Regions from separate parts of the Homo sapiens genome. Here region 2 is linked to region 1. Evidence: fine-mapped expression QTL. A gene starts in region 1. The other region holds a variant in brackets. All regions are shown on one strand. Distances are from middle to middle.

The links.
Region 2: its variant is fine-mapped to the expression of MIR7-3HG in prefrontal cortex (CommonMind, PIP 0.95).

What each region holds. Positions count from the first base shown.
Region 1 is chr19:4,764,250-4,772,575 of GRCh38, reverse strand. It overlaps MIR7-3HG (MIR7-3 host gene), which reads right to left and starts at 3,471. Exons shown (of 3, transcript NR_027148.1): 1 at 3,225-3,471; 2 at 2,819-2,946; 3 at 20-412. It overlaps MIR7-3 (microRNA 7-3), which reads right to left and starts at 1,906; the gene lies at 1,797-1,906. RefSeq lists a silencer at 2,745-3,039.
Region 2 is chr19:3,900,069-3,908,394 of GRCh38, reverse strand. It overlaps ATCAY (ATCAY kinesin light chain interacting caytaxin), which reads right to left. Exons shown (of 13, transcript NM_033064.5): 3 at 5,850-5,908; 4 at 2,740-2,961; 5 at 476-661; 6 at 25-127. Among named protein-coding and RNA genes, the nearest start is that of ATCAY, 24 kb to the right of the region's middle. The variant G/TG (reference allele first, on the strand shown) is at 4,413.

The DNA of each region.
Region 1 (8,326 bases):
AGAAGGATCTTCCTGTGTGTGCTGAGGCCATTCATTCATTTATTGATTGATGTATTGGTTTATTCTTTGATGCCTTTATTGATTCAACACATGCTTATTATATGCCTGCTGTGTGCCGGGCCCCGGACCAGGCGCTGGGGACACAGCAGTGAAAATACTAACATTGTTTCTGCCCTCACGGAGCTCACAGTGTAACAGGGAGACAAATAGACCTGTCAGTAGATAACATGAAAATAATTGGACTATGTGCTGCAGACACAATATCCCAGGTCTATGAGAATGTCAATACAGACTTCACGTGGGAAATGGTGAGGCAATAAGGATCGTTTCCCTTGATGAAATGGAGCTTGCAGAAGAAGGCAGGGTCAGTTGTGGGGAGCTCTGGTTGGAGGTGGAGGGAGTGCATTCCAAGCTGCAGGAACAGCAGAGGCAAAAGCCCTGAGGCTGGAGAACAGGTAACCATGTGCAGTTTTTCACTTGATTAGGGTGTTGCAGAGAATTGGGAGTGAGTCTTATATATTTATTTATTTATTTATTATTTTTTACTGAGATGAGGTCTTGCTATGTTGCCCAGGCTGGTCTCGAACTCCTGAGCTCAAGCTATCCTCCCACCTTGGCCTCCCAAAGTGCTGGGATTACAAGTGTGAGCCACCATGTCTGGCAAAGGTGGTGAGCCTTTATGATGTCATAAGTCACCACTGGGCACAAGTTCACACTTGTCCTATGATTGGCCCATGACACTGATGGGTAGCAGACAGGAAAGGAATCTTTTCTGAAACTTTTTTTTTGAAACAGGGTGTTGTTCTGTTGCCCAGTCTGGAGTGCAGTGGTGCAGTCATGGCTCACTGCAGCCTTGATCTCCCAGGCTCAAGTGTTCCTCCCACCTCCTAAGTAGTTGGGACTACAGGCATGTGTCAACTCACGGGGTCTCACTATATTGCCCAGGCTGGTCTCAAACTCCTGTACTCAAGCAATCCTCCCATCTCATCCTCCCAAAATGTTAGGATTACAGGTATGAGCTCCCACACCCAGCCCACTTCTGGAACTTTTATTGAAAAGTATCCTTAGGCTGGGTTCGGTGGCTCACACCTGTAATCTTGGCACTTTGAGAGGCTGAGGCAGGAGACCATGTCTTTACAAAAAAGAAAAAAAAAATGTTTTTTGAGACAGAATCTCTCTCTGTTGCCCAGGCTGGAGTGCAGTGGTGCAATCTTGGGTCATGCAGCCTCTGCCTCCTGGGTTCAAGGGATTCCCATGCCTCAGCCTCCCGAGTAGCTGGGACTACAGGTGTGTGCCACAACGCCCAGCTAATTTTTGTATTTTTAGGAGAAATGGAGTTTCACCATGTTGTCCAGGCTGGTCTTGAACTCCTGGCCTCAAGTGGTCCACCTGCCTTGGCCTCCCAAAGTGCTGGGATGACAGGCGTGAGCCACCCGGCCAAAAAAATAATAATTTTTTTTTTAATAGAAAAGTACCCTGAGAACTCTGGTCTAGGGAGGGCTTTAAATGTCATTCCCTCATTGGGTCTCCCAGGAAAGCGCCATAAGGTGGTTAGAGGTCTTGGGTTTAGAGTCAGGTATGTTCTATCTCCAGGCTTGTGGGGGCGTACGAGTGATGTGACAAACCCCATACATGGTGCATGGCTGTATGAGCACAGGATGTATGTCCTTGTTTGCTTCCCTCCTTTGCCTGTGCCTGTATCGCCTGGAGTGAGCCAGCCCCCCCACTCCGAGTGGAAGCGATTCTTCCCCGACCTCCCCGGTTCTCCCCCACTGGCCAGCCCATTGAAGGCGAAGGTCGAAGGGAGTCTGCGCTATGAGGCCGGCTGTGACTTGTTGTCGTAGTACATCAGAACAACAAAATCACTAGTCTTCCACACAGCACTAGACCACAGCCACTCTAATCTTCTTCACCACCCTCTGCCCCATGTCTGAGACCCCTGCCCAGCTCCTCCTTCTCACCTGAGCCAAGCTATGACACCTGAGTTTCCTGCCTCTGTGCTGCCTCCCTGTTTTCCATTCCCGGTTCTCCTGGAGAGAAGCAGGGTCTGATCTCCAAGGGCCCACCTCCCACCCAGGCACGTCAGAGACATGGGATTTGGAGTTGGACTGGTGGGGTTGACTTACAGCTTCACTTGTGGGCTGAGAGTCCCTGCGTGGGTTATTTTTCTGCCTTTCTCAGGGCCTTGGGTTCCCCAAATGTCACATGGGCACAGTAACACCCATGTCCTAGGGTTGAAGATGGCATGATATGATGTATGTAAAATGCTTGGCACAAGGTTTCTCACCGAAGTCTGGAAGAGACACCATAATGTCATCTTAGCAGGCAGCTGTTACCCCAGTGAGGTATCTTACCTGTTGAAAATTCCGGACTTGGGCCAGGCGCAGTGACTCACGCCTGTAATCCTAGCACTTTGGGAGGCTGAGGTGGACGGATGAAGAGGTCAAGAGTTTGAGACCAGCCTGGCCAACATGGTGAAACCCCGTCTCTACTAAGAATACAAAAATTAGCCGGGAGTGGTGGCATGTGCCTGTAATCCCAGATACTCGGGAGGCTGAGGCAGGAGAATCCCTTGAACCCAGGAGGCAGAGGTTGCAGTGAGCCGAGATCGTGCCACTGCACTCCAGCCTGGGCGACAGAGCAAGACTCCGTCTCGAAAAAAAAAGAAAATTGCAGACTTCTGTGTGTGCTTATCTGGAAAATACTTTGTTTAAAAATCCATTACATGAGGTGCAGGTCTCCAGAAATGCCAGGCACCTCAGACCACCCTCTCTCGTCCTCCCCCTGCAAAATCAGGGTCAAAGGGCTCTCCCGTTACCTGGAGGAGCTGTCCAGGGTTCTGGAGACGAAACGGAGCCCGCTGGGAACTGTCCTGAGCCCCGGTGCTGAAACAGATCGCGGTTCTCTTCTCGGACCTCCCGAGAGGCGCTGTCCGGATATTTGGTGCTGAAATAAATAGCATTCTCCTCCTTCGGTCGGTGGAGAGCTGTCCCTCGTGCTGAAGAAAACTTGATTTTCCTCTCTCTTTCCCCGTTCCCCCACCCCTCTTCGTTCTCGGTTCCTCCGATTCTTGGGAAACCCCACCCCCACTCAATTTATTTCCCCTCCTAGCTTCTTCCTGGGGAGCTTCAGAATGGCAATGGGGTGGCGGGGGGGAGACACAGAGGGGTCGCAACTAGCACTGATACCTGCTCCTCACCCTGTACCATGTCCCCAGAACTTACCTCCCAAGCAGTCAGCCCTGCTGGTCTCTGCTTTCCAGACCGTCAAACTTCGCCGTCTCTGTCCCTTTCTGGGAAAATGTCCATGCGCCAACCTGCAAACCAGCCTCATTCCCGGCATCCCACGTCCCTCAGACCACCCCTCCTCCCACGCAGCTGCGGGCCTCCCCCTCTGTGTGCCTCACCTGCTTCCAGTCTTGTTGGCAGATGCAGGTGTCCCGTGGCTGCCGAGGCGGGGACCTGCGCTTTTATAGGCTTCAGGGAAGGCGGAGCGCCAGGAATCCTGGGAGGGGCTTCCCCAACTGGCCAATGGGATTCCGCCTCAGAATGAAGCTCCAAAGATTACCTCATAGGTTGTGGCCCACGCTTCAGAATAAAAGTCTGGCATCTGCCCAAAAACTGGGCTAGGGGATTTTTTCGGATGGGGAAGGAGCATTCATTGTGGACCATGGAGTCTCCCCACTCTCTCCAATCCCCTCCTGGGTTCCTGAGCTCCAAGTTCGTTCAGGTGTCCTGGCTGGTACCTGTTTCTTCCCATTCCCAATTTTTGCTATTGCTCCTGGTTCAGGAAAGAAAAAGCTGGTAAACTGTTTTGGGAAAAAATAAGGGATGTGGAGAATATTAAAGTCCAGTTCCACCTAGGGCAACTGACGTCTGTGAAAATGGAGGGCTCAGAAGACTCTGGGGCAGAGGTGGGACTTAAGCCTGAAGCTTTTGATTCCTTAACTCAAAACCCAATTTATAAAATTCAGCTTATTGTAGTGCTATACTGGGCAGGCTCTGAACCAAAAAACGAAGAAACTGGGGTTCAAGTTCAGATTTTTCTTCTCCTTCCTTTGGGACATTGGGCACAGTTGTGCCTCAGTTTTTGCAACTGTGAAGTAGTGATAATAGTAGAGTATTTGCTGAGGAACTAATGATATGGTGTGGATTGCATGTTAGAAATAATCAGGGCAGGGGCTAATGTGAGTTGGGTGAGGCACCAGCCTCAGGTGCAAAACTTAAAGGGGCACCAAAAAACTCAATAATCAAGGTAAATAATATTTCAGGCCAGGTGCAATGGCTCATGCTTGTAATCTGAGCACTTTGGGAGGCCAAGGTGGGAGGATCACTTGAGGCCAGGATTTCAAGATGAGCCTGGGCAACATAGTGAGACCCCGTTTCTGAGAGAGAAAGAGGGAGAGAGGGAGAGAGAAAGAGAGAAACAGAGAGAGAGAGAGAGAGAGAGAGAGAGAATGGCACCTGTGGTCTCAGCTACTTGGGAGGCTGAGGTGAGAGGATCACTTGAGGCCAGGAGGTCGAAGCTGCAGTGAGTTATGATTGCACCACTGCACTCCAGCCTAGGTGACAGAGCAAGACCCTGTCTCAAAAAAAAATCGATGCAATGTTTTAAGAAATCAAAATGTATGCCAAAATCCACAATGAACAAAATATCAAAAATGTAAATAAAGGCAGAACCAGCCTTTCTGACTTTTCCTTTTGCCTGAGGTCCCAATATGGCTTGGCATGGCACTAGCAATCATGTCTGTTTACGGTAAGTTTTCTAATAATGCAGCTGTTATTCTTTCCTGATCTATTCCACCCATTTATTTGCTCAACAAACTTGTTGTACTAGGCACTGGAGATACATACATGAATTCAGCAACCAACCTTGCCTTTAGGGAGGGTAAAGACATGAAAACTCTGCTCACATGTTGGTATGGGCATTGGGTTGAAGGAACAGTCAGTGTAAGGGCCCTGGTGGGGGTGGGGGAAAGAACAGGCCCTGGGGGGTGAGCAAGCATAGAAGGGACAGTTAGGATATAAATCAGGGACAGCTGTACAGGACCTGATCATTCAGGCCAGGACAAAAGTGAAGTTCCTCAGGTTGCACAGGAAGACCTGCCACCCTTTCTCTCTCCCCTTCCCTAAGCTTTTACTCTGTGCCAGGGTCAGTGCCAGACATTCTACCTGCTGAGTGATCTGAAGGCCTCAGGGCAGCCCCATGAGATAGATCCCAGCCAGGTGCGTTGACTCACCCCTGTAATTCCAGCACTTTGGGAGGCCGAGGCGGGTGGATGACCTGAGGTCAGGAGTTCGAGACCAGCTTGGCCAATATGGTGACACCTCGTCTCTACTAAAAATACAAAAATTAGCCGAGTGCGGTGGCGGGTGCCTGTAGTCCCAGCTACTACAGAGGCTGAGGCAGGAGAATCGCTTGAACCCGGGAGGCAGGGGTTGCAGTAAGCCAAGATCATGCCACTGCACTCCAGCCTGGGTGACAGAGCGAGACCTTGTATAAAAAAAATAAAAATAATAAAAAAATTGAAAAAGGGCCGGACATGGTGGCTCACGCCTGTAATCCCAGCACTTTGGAAAGCAGAGGTGGGTGGATCACCTGAGGTCGGGAGTTTGAGAACAGCGTGACCAACATGGAGAAACCCTGACTCTACTAAAAATACAAAATTAGCCGGCATGGTGGCACGTGCCTCTAATCCCAGCTACTTGGGAGGCTGAGGCAAGATAATCGCTTGAACCCAGGAGGTGGGGGTTGCAGTGAGCCAAGATTGTGCCACTGCACTCCAGCCTAGGCAATAAGAGCAAAACTCTGTTAAAAAAAAAGAAGAAGAAGAACAAAGAAAGGAAGGAAGGAGAAAGAGAAAGAGAGAAAAAAGAAAGAAAAAGAAAGAAAGAAGAAAGAAAGAAGAAAGAAAGAAAGAAAGAAAGAAAGAAAGAAAGAAAGAAAGAAAGAAAGAAAGAAAAAGAAAGAAGGAAAGAAAGAAAGAAAAAGAAAGAAAGTTCTTTTTGGCTGGATGCCTGTAATCCCAGCACTCTGGGAGGCCAAGGCAAGTGGATCACCTGAGGTCAGGAGTTTGAGACCAGACTGGACAATATGTTGAAACCCCATCTCTACTAAAAATACAAAAATTAGCTGGGCATGGTGGTGCATGCCTGTAATCCCAACTACTCAGGAGGCTGAGGCAGGAGAATCGCTTGAACCCAGGAGTTTGAAGTTGCAATGAGCCAAGATTGCACCATTGTACTCCAGCCTGGGCAACAAGAGCAAAACTCCATCTCAAAATAGACAGAGAGAGAGAGAGAGAGAGAGAGAGAGAGAGAGAGAGAGAGAGAGAGAGAGAAAGGAAAGCAGGCCTTTTGACTGGGCACAGTGGCTCATGCCTGTAATCCCAGCACTTTGGGAGGCCAAAGCGGGCAAATCACGAGGTCAGGAGGTCGAGACCAGCCTGGTCAACATGGTGAAACCTCGTCTCTACTAAAAATACAAAAAATTAGCTGGGCATAGTGGCGGGTGCCTGTAATCCCAGCTACTTGGGAGGCTCGGGCAGGAGAATCACTTGAACCCGGGAGAAGGAGGTTGCAGTGAGCCAAGATCGTGCCACTGCACTCCAGCCTGGGCAACAGAGCAAGACTCCTTCTCAAAAAAAAAAAAAAAAAAAAAAAAAAAGGAAGAAAGACCTTTTTTTTTTTAAGACAGAGTCTTAGTCTGTGACCCAGGCTGGAGTGCAGTAGTGCAATCATGGCTCACTGCAGTCTCTGCCTCCTGGCTCAGGCAATCCTCCTACTTCAGCCTTCTGTAGGTGTGCACCGCTATGCCCAGCTAATTTTAAAAATTATTTGTAGAAACAGGGTCACCCTATGTTGCCCAGGTTGGTCTTGAACTCCTGGGCTCAAGCAATCCTCCCACCTTGGCCTCCCAAAGTGCTGAAATTCCAGGCATGAGCTATCATGCCTGGCTGATATGCATGTTTTATAGATGGCTAGAGAGGGGAAGGGGCTTGCCCAAGGACCACAGGGAGAGGGTGTGGGAGTTGGGGACCCCAGTCTGCCAACCCCAAGGTTTAATCTCTTATCAATTGTTCATTTCATTTCCTGTGCCCTTCCAGAAGTACATGCATATATAAGTGTGTACATTCTCCGCCCACATGCACGTTTGCTACTTTTTATTTTTATTTTTTATTATTTTATTTTATTTTAGAGATGAAATCTCACTCTGTTGCCCATGCTGGAGTGCAGTGGCATGATCTCGACTCACTGCGACTTCTGCCTCCCGGATTCAAGCGATTCTCCTGCCTCAGCCTCCCGAGTAGCTGGGATTACAGGTGTCCGCCACCACACCCAGCTAATTCTTGTATTTTTAGTAGAGATGGGTTTTCACTATGTTGGCCAGGCTGGTGTTGAACTCCTGACCTCAAGCGATCCACCCACCTCGGTCTCCCAAATTGCTGGGATTACAGGTGTGAGCCACCACGCCTGGCCTGGCTTCCTTTCCTCAGTAGAATACACTGGAGAGCCATTCATGCTGTTGTGTGAACCCGGAGTTAGTTCCTTTTTATTATTAAGTAGTATTCCATCATGTGGATGAACTATGGCCTGTTTAGCTATTCATCAGTCCAAGGACATTAGGTTCTGGAACACCTTCTGTGTTTGGAGATTATTAGGAATAAAACTGCTATAAATATTTTCATGCAGGCTTTCATGTGGGCGATAAATTTTCACATCTCCAGGGTAACACCTAGGAGGGTGACGGCTGGGTCATATGGGAAGTGTATATTTAACTTCATAAGAAACTGTCAAACTTTTCCAGAGCGATTGTATTTTAGTAGAGATGGGGTTTCACCACGTTGGCCAGGCTCGTCTCGAACTCCTGACCTCAAGTGATCCTCCTGCCTTGGCCTCCCAAAGTGTTGGGATTACAGGCGTGAGCCACCACTCTCAGCTATAGCTGGCATTTTTATAATAACTTTCTGTGCACTGGGCCCTTGCTCATTCAGGCTCTGCTCTTGTCTATTCACTTGGAATCTGAGCTTCCCAGAGAGACCCCTTTGTTCAGTTTTTCTCCTCTCTGGGTCTCTGTGTTCTGTAACATTTCCTTGTGTCCCGGGAGATAGACAGGTGTGGGTGGGCAGAGGCGAACGAATCTATTTAGAAAATGGCCCCACGACTCCAGTTAGGAACAGTAGCTAATTATCTCTGGGAATAACAAGCCAGCAATGAGTATTAATTAATAGCTCATCAGGGTAGAAAAGAAAAGTCTAGGAATAAGGGCCTTGGGTGATTCCTCCTCCCTGTATGTGCGCGTACACACACACACACACACACACACA
Region 2 (8,326 bases), 860 kb after region 1:
TGCTCGCCGCGGGCGGGGACTCACAGGAAGAGGTTCTCCATGATGTAGTGGTAGTCGGGGAGGCTGCTGTCTGGAAGGAAGCAGGCTGCGAAGACGATGATGGCGTTGAGGCCTTCGCCGTAGTACCCTGAGGAGAGGCAGCCGATCGGCAACGTCAGAGTCCTCTCCCAGCCCTGAGCTGCCTCCCGCGCACCACCCACCACGTCCCGGTGCCCACACGCTCGGGAGGGCATGGCTCCGAGCCACAGCAGCCGGCGACCCCTTAGCCAGTCTCTGCCTTCGCTGAGGAGTGACAGCGACCATCAGGGGCCCCCAGTGCGCCTCCCTGACCATGCACGCCTTGCCCACAGTCCGTCCACCCGAAGCGAGTTGACGGCTTAACATCCCCGTGCATCAGAGAGGGGCACTGACGAACCCCCTGTTGCCCAGTGGGCCGGGCTGGAGCCCCAAGGGGGCACCGGGGGGCGGGTCTCACCTCCGTGGGTGACCACTTTCATGTAAGGCCGGATCATGTGCAGGTCTATACGGTGCTCTTGCTCCCCGATGATCACTGTCCGCCACAGGCGCCCGTTGGCGGCGCTGCCGTCCTCCGTCGTGCCGTCCCCAAATAGATCCGCGCTGTCCCCGGGCATGTTCTTGGCGGTGGCCACGGGGGTGTCGTCTAGAAGCAGGTGGCGGAGAGTCGCATGGACGCCAGAGTCCGGATATCTCCTGCCCTCCTGCTCAGCCTTCCTTCCCCTCTCCCACCTCCCTCGCTGCCGGGACCCACAAGTCCTTCGCTTCTCCCCACCTGGCTGCCCTGCTGACCCATTTTCCTCTCCTACTCCCCTTTCAAGGCCTGGCTCAAATGCCGCCTCCTCCAGGAAGCCTTTCTGGACATTCCCTTTGCTGGCCTCCCAGGGCACTCTGTTGGTTAAGGACCTGTGTCCTGGAGCTTCTCAGAGCTGGTGAATGCATCTGCTTCATCAAACCACGAGGATACTCGGGGCATGCATGCTTGGTTTTTACTCTCCCAGGAGCCTGGCACACAGAGAGCAGTCCTCCTGCCTCAGCCTCCCAGATACCTGGGACTACAGTTGTGCACCACCACACCCAGCTAATTTTTATATTTTTGTAGAGATGGGGTTTCAATATGTTGCCCAGGCTGGTCTCAAACTCCTGGCCTTAAGCGATCCTCCTACCCTGGCCTCCCGAAGCTCTGGGATTACAGGAATGAGCCACTACATTGTCCTTAATTTTTTTTTTTCTTTCTTTTTTTTTTTTGAGAGAGTCTTGTTCCATCGCCCAGGCTGGAGTGGAGTGGTGCGATCTCTGCTCACTGCAGCCTCTGCCTCCAGAGTTCAAGCGATTCTCCTGCCTCAGCCTCCCGAGTAGCTGGGACTACGCACGCCACCATGCCCGGCTAATTTCTGTATTTTTAGTAGAGATGGAGCTTCACCATGTTGGCCAGGCTGGTCTCAAACTCCTGACCTCAGGTGATCTGCCCACCTCAGCCTCCCAAAGTGCTGGGATTACAGGCGTGAGTCACTGCGCCTGGCCTTTCGTGGTCTGTCTTTCTGATGATCTGTGTGTGCAGGTAGGGACCAGGACCATCTCTTCTTATCATAGCCCTGCCATATACCCCACGCCTGAATCAGGACTTGCCCTGGAGTAAATGGTCAAAAAGTATTTGTTGCATACATCGAGGGCAGTTTGTTGGGATCTTGGTCGCCTTTGAGATTCTGATGAAAGCCACGTTCTGCAGAAAAATTCACAAGCCCACAAGAAAAATATGCATCAAATTGCAGGGGCAGGCTGGGCGCCGTGGCTCACACCTGTGATCCCAGCACTTTGGGAGGCCGAGGTGGGTGTATCACTTGAAGTCAGGAGTTTGAGACCAGCCTGGGCAACATGGGAAAACCCCATCTCTACTAAAAATATAAACATCAGCCGGAAGTGGTAGTGCATGCCTGTAATCCCAGCTACTCGGGAGGCTGAGGCAAAAGAATCGCTTGAACCCGGGAGGTGGAGGATGCAGTGAGCTGAGATCACACCACTGCACTCCAGCCTGGGCAACAGAGTGAGACTCTGTCTCAAAAAAAAAAAAAAAACAGTCGCAGGAGCGGATGGACCCTCCTCCTGGCACCCCTCCTATTCTGCTATCGAACAATAGAACTTATTCCTTCTGTCTAACTGTATGTTGGTACCCATTCACCAACCTCTCTCTCTCTTTTTTTTTTTTTTTGAGACGGAGTCTCGCTCTGTCGCCCAGGCTGGAGTGCAGTGGCACAATCTTGGCTCACCGCAAGCTCGGCCTCCTGGGTTCACACCGTTCTCCTGCCTCAGCCTCCTGAGTAGCTGGGACTTCAGGTGCCCGCCACCATGCCTGGCTAATTTTTTGTATTTTAGTAGAGACGGGGTTTCACTGTGTCAGCCAGGATGGTCTCGATCTCCTGACCTCGTGATCTGCCCGCCTCGGCCTCCCAAAGTGCTAGGATTACAGGCATGAGCCACTGCGCCCAGCCACCTCTCTCTTTTTTAAAAATTTTATTTTTGAGACAGGGTCTCACTCTGTTGTCCAGGCTGGAGTGCAGTGGCATGATCACGTCTCACTGCAGTCTTGATCTCCTGGGTTTAAGGCTAGACTGCTTAGAGCCCCTGCCCCACTTGTGACTCTCTGAGCCTATGGGAATCCAGAGACGGAAAGGTGGGGTGGGGGGGGTGGGCTCCAGCAGGCCCCAGAGAGACCCTGAACTTTACCTTCCCACTCCAGTTCGTTGCCATTCCCCAGGAACTCCAGCGAGTCGGTCTCATCGGGGGTCTCGATGTCATCCACGTTAATATCCAGGTCATCAGGGGTATCCAAGAAGTCATCGGACAGCAGGGACCCCTCACTCTGATCCAGAGAAATGTTGATCTCTGGGGCCACCAGCGTCTTCCTCTTACGATGCGCTCCGTTGAAATTTAGCGTGTTGGGAGGAGCTGCAGGGAAATGAGAAAAATGGAAAACATCTTTGCTTTCTCTCTTTTACCTTCCCCCCATTTTCCTACCTGGTGGAAGCTGTTTCATCATGCAGGAATGGGAAGAGAGGGTGGGCTCCCTTCTGTATCCATGCCATTGGCGGGGGTGGGCAGAATTAAACCGACATCATCCTGACAGGGGTGAATGTTATAACCTCTGTCCTGTGGGCAAGCCTCAGAGATTAAGGGGATGGATGCTTGGACATTGGGCAGACATGAGTTCAAAGCCTGACTTTGGGCCGGGTGCGGTGGCTCACGCCTGTAATCCCAGCACTTTGGAGGCCGAGGCGGGCAGATCACCTGAGGTCAGGAGTTCGAGACCAGCCTGGCCAACATGGCGAAACCCCATCTCTACTAAAAATATAAAAATTAGCCGGGCACAGTGGTGGCGCCTGTAATCCCAGCTGCTTGGGAGTCTGAGGCAGGAGAATCACTTGAGCCCAGGAGGCGGAGGTTACAGTGAGCCAAGATCGTACCATTGCACTCCAGCCTGGGTGACAGAGTGAAACTCTATCTCAAAAATAAATAAATAAATAAATAAAGGAGAAGAGACATATCTCTTGTGCAGACAAATTGTGAAAGCAGCCCATCTTCTTCTAGGCTTTCTCTGACTCTCACCCTCCTGTCTCCACTCATGAGGATCCTGTAACGATGTCAGGCCACCTGGATAATACAGGATCCAGGATAGTCTCCTATTTTAATCAGAGTGCTCCAGGGAAACAAATCCAATAGGACGTGTGTGTGTGTGTGTGTGTGTGTATACATATTTTTTTCCTATATGTATGGAAAAAAAGAGAGAGGGAGAAATTTATTTTAAGGAATTAGCTCGTGTGATCACAGAGACTGACAAGTCCTCAATCGGCAGGGCAGGCCAGCAGGCGGGACGCCTAGGGAAGAGTTGATGTTGCAAAACCGTCCGCAGGCAGAATTGTCTCTGCCTGGGGGAACCTCAGTCTGTTTCTCTTAAAACCTTCAACTGATTAGATGAGGCCCACCCACATCACAGATGGCTGCCTGCTTTAATCCAAAGTCTGCTAATTTATTTTGTTTTATTTATGTATTTATTTTTTTGAGATGGAGTCTCACTCCGTTACCCAGGCTGGAGTACAATGGTAGGATCTCAGCTCACTGCAACCTCCGCCTCCCAGGTTCAAGTGATTCTCCCACCTCAGCCTCCCAAGTAGCTGGGATTACAGGCATGCGCCACCAAGCCCGACTAATCTTTTTTTGTTTTGTTTTGTTTAGACAGAGTCTCGCCTTGTCACCCAGGCTGGAGTGCAATGGCACAATCTCAGCTTGCTGCAACCTCCGTCTCCTGGGTTCAAGCGATCCTCATGCCTCAGCCTCCTGAGTGACTGGGATTACAGGCAAGTGCCACAATGCCCGGCTAATTTTTTTTTTTTTTTTTTTTT[G/TG]TATCTTTAGTAGAGACGGGGCTTCACCATGTTGGCCAGGTTGGTCTCAAACTCCTGACCTCGTGATCTGCCCGCCTCGGCCTCCCAAAGTGCTGGGATTACAGGCGTGAGCCACGGTGACCTGCCTTTTTTTTTTTTCTTTTTAAATAGAGACAGGCGGCCGGGTGCAGTGGCTCACGCCCGTAATCCCAACACTTTGGGAGGCCAAGGTGGGAAGATGGCTTGAGCCCAGGAGTTCAAGAGCAGCCTGGGCAACATAGTGAGACCCCATCTCTACAAAAAACTACAAAAATTAACCAGCCATGGTGGTGTGTACCTGTAGTCCCAGCTACTCAGGAGGCTGAGGCAGGAGGATCTCTTGAGCCCAGGAGGTTGAGGCTGCAGTGAGCCATGATCACGCTACTGCACTCCAGCCTGGGCGATACAGTGAGGCTCTGTCTCCAAAAAAATTTTGTTTGGCCCTCACAGGTTTATTTTCCATATTCTGCTTAACTGAATGTCGTTAAGTGGGGCTGGCTGCCAGGTCCTCCCCAGACCCCACCTCTCCCCACGGTGCCAACCTGGGCCCTTTCCCTGCCTCCGGAGGCACGTTGCAATCGCCAGGTTACGGCTAAAACTCTCCTCTGGCCGCCCAGGACTCCCATCCCCGGGATCTGGGGCTTCAGAGCCTGATACATTATGATTTTTTTCCTCTGCTGAAGAAAAAACATGCCAGGCGTGGTGGCTCACGCCCGTAATCCCAGCACTTTGGGAGGCTGAGGCAAGAAGATGGCTTGAGCCCAGGAGTTCAAGAGCAGCCTGGGCAACATAGCTAGATCCCATTTCTACAAAAACTACCAAAATTAGCCAGCCATGGTGGTGTGCACCTGTAGTCCCAGCTACTCAGAAGGCTGAGGCAGGAGGATCTCTTGAGCCCTGGAGGTTGAGGCTGCAGTGAGCCATGATCACGCCACTGCACTCCAGCCTGGATGACAGAGTGTGACCCGGTCTCCCAAAAAATGTATATATTTGGGTCTAATATAAGGTATTACACATTAAAATGTATATGTTTAGAGCTCCAGATAGCAGAGCCTCCCAGTGCACCCTTGGCTGTGCTGACTTTGTGCCTCCAGGGCATTTGGCATCACCTCATTTAATCCTTACATGCCCCCTCTGCGAGAAGCTCGCTACCTACATTTAGTAGATGAGGCATTGGGGCACAGAGAGGCTGAGTGACTAGCACAGGGACACACAGCAACACAGCGTGCTGGCTTCATGAGAGCGCCATCATCCATTGTGTCTCTCACCCACCACGGCCACTTCCACCATAGACCCCAGGACAGAACATTCTACCCACGGTGTGTGGCCTCTGACATTTCTACAGTTACAGCCCCAGGCAGGGCTGAAACCCGGAAACACTGAGCCTGTTTCCGCCCTTCTGTGGACGTGGAAACTTACAGGATGTGTCTTCCACCGGGCTGCCAAGCAGTTCCACCCCCGTCTCTTCTGGGAGTGGCCTGCGGACCCATCCAGGAACAGGCATCAGTCGCCGGGCACCAGAGATTCAGGCAGAGGACAGTGGAGTGGCCCAGACAGGTCCAGCCAGGCGAGTCAGACAAGAACAAAAGCAAAACACATTTAGTTCTGGAGAATCACTGGACCTAAATATATACATTTTTTTGGAGACAGAGCCTCACTGTATCGCCCAGGCTGGAGTGCAGTAGCGTGATCATGGCTCACTGCAGCCTCAACCTCCTGGGCTCAAGAGATCCTCCTGCCTCAGCCTCCTGAGTAGCTGGGACTACAGGTGCACACCACCACGGCTGGCTAATTTTTGTAGTTTTTTGGTTTTTTGTAGAGATGGGGTCTCACTATGTTGCCCAGGTTGCTCTTGAACTCCTGGGCTCAAGCCATCTTCCCACCTCAGCCTCCCAAAGTGTTGGGATTACGGGCGTGAGCCACCACAAGCGCATGTTTTTTCTTTTTCTTTTATTTTTTTCTTTTGAGACAGAGTCTCGCTCTGTCGCCCAGGCTGGATGGAGTAGAGTGGCATGATCTCGGCTCACGGCAACCTCCGCCTCCCGGGTTCAGGCCATTCTTCTGCCTCAGCCTCCTAAGTAAACTGGGACTACAGGTGCCCGCTACCATGCCCGGCTAATTTTTGTATTTTTAGTAGAGACGGGGTTTCACCATATTGGCCAGGCTGGTCTGGAACTCCTGACCTTGTGATCTGCCCACCTCGGCCTCTCAAAGTGCTGGGATTACAGGCATGAGCCACCGCGCCCGCCCAGCATGTTTTTTCTTTAGCAGAGGAAGAAAATTATAACGCATCAGGGCTGAAGGGCTTCTTTTAGATAATCAAATTTATATTAAGCCTTTTGGAGATTTTTGCACGGCTTGAGGAGAATGAAGGTTTTTCCCCAGCATCACATGACTTCAAAAACTTTGAAATAAGTTAGTAAGTTGAATTCTCTCTAGGGCGACCCTGTGGGATTTGGTCTCTGATGAGTTGTTGACTCTCAAATGCAGCAAAAAGTATTAAAAATAAATAAATAGATAAAACCCCCACAAAAACCTGAGTCAACCAGAAGAGATCTCTATGTCAATGCTGGAACAGTTTGTGCAACCAAATAAATAATGAAATATTGAATTATAACCCAAGATGTAAAATAAATGTCTATGAGTCCATACGGATATAAATAAGTCACTGAACAAATAAACAGGAGAGAAGAGACACATTTCTTGTGCAGAAGAATTGGAAATAGTTTATGTACAGTTCTGCCCTCAAGAAGATGAAGGATAGGCCGGGTGCGGTGGCTCACGCCTGTAATCCCAGCACTTTGGGAGGCCGAGGCGTGCGGATCACGAGGTCAGGAGATCGAGACCATCCTGGCTAACATGGTGAAACCCCGTCTCTACTAAAAGTACAAAAAAAATAGCGGGGCGTGGTGGCAGGTGCCTGTAGTCCCAGCTACTCAGGAGGCTGAGGCAGGAGAATGGCATGAACCCAGGAGGCGGAGCTTGCAGTGAGCCGAGATCGTGCCACTGCACTCCAGCCTGGGCCACAGAGCAAGACTCTGTCTCAAAAAAAAAAAAAAAAAAAAAAAAGATGAAGGATAACTCTGTGTAGGCTGTGTATAGTGATGTCATTCCAAAAAATACAGGATGGGCCAGGCGCAGCAGCTCACGCCTGTAATCCCAGCACTTTGGGAGGCTGAGGCAGGAGGATCACTTGAGCTCAGGAATTCGAGACCAGCCTGGACAACATGGTGAAACGCCATCTCTACTAAAAATACAAAAATTAGGCAGGCATGGTGGAGGACACCTGTAATCCCAGCTATCAGGAGGCTGAGGCAGGAGAATCGCTTGAACCCGGGAGGCGGAGGTTGCAGTGAGCCGAGATCGTGCCACTGCTCTCCAGCCTGGGTGACAGAGTGAGACTCCATCTCAAAACAAACAAACAAACAAAACTATCAAGGGCATCAAAACAAGAAAGACAGGGAGACTGCCACAGTCCAGAGGAGTGTCAGGAGATGTGATAACTAAATGTCATCTGGGATCCTGGATGGGGTTGTGGGGCAGAAGGAAAAGGACATTAGGCCAGCCTGGGCAACATGGCGTAACTCTGTCTCTACAAAAATTACAAAGATTAGCTGGACGTGGTGGTGCCTGTAGTCCCAGCTACTCTGGAGGCTGAGGTGGGAGGACTGCTTGAGCCTGGGAGGCGGAGGCTGCAGTGAGGTATGATGGCACCACTGCACCCCAGCCTGGATGACAGAGTGAGACCCTGTCTCTTAAAAAAAAAAAGAGAGAAAAGAAAAAAAAAGAGGACATTAGGAAAAACTTTGAAAATCTAAAAAAGCATGGACTTTGGTAACTAATAACCAATATTGATCAATATTGTTATTGATCAATGTTGATTATCAATAACCAAT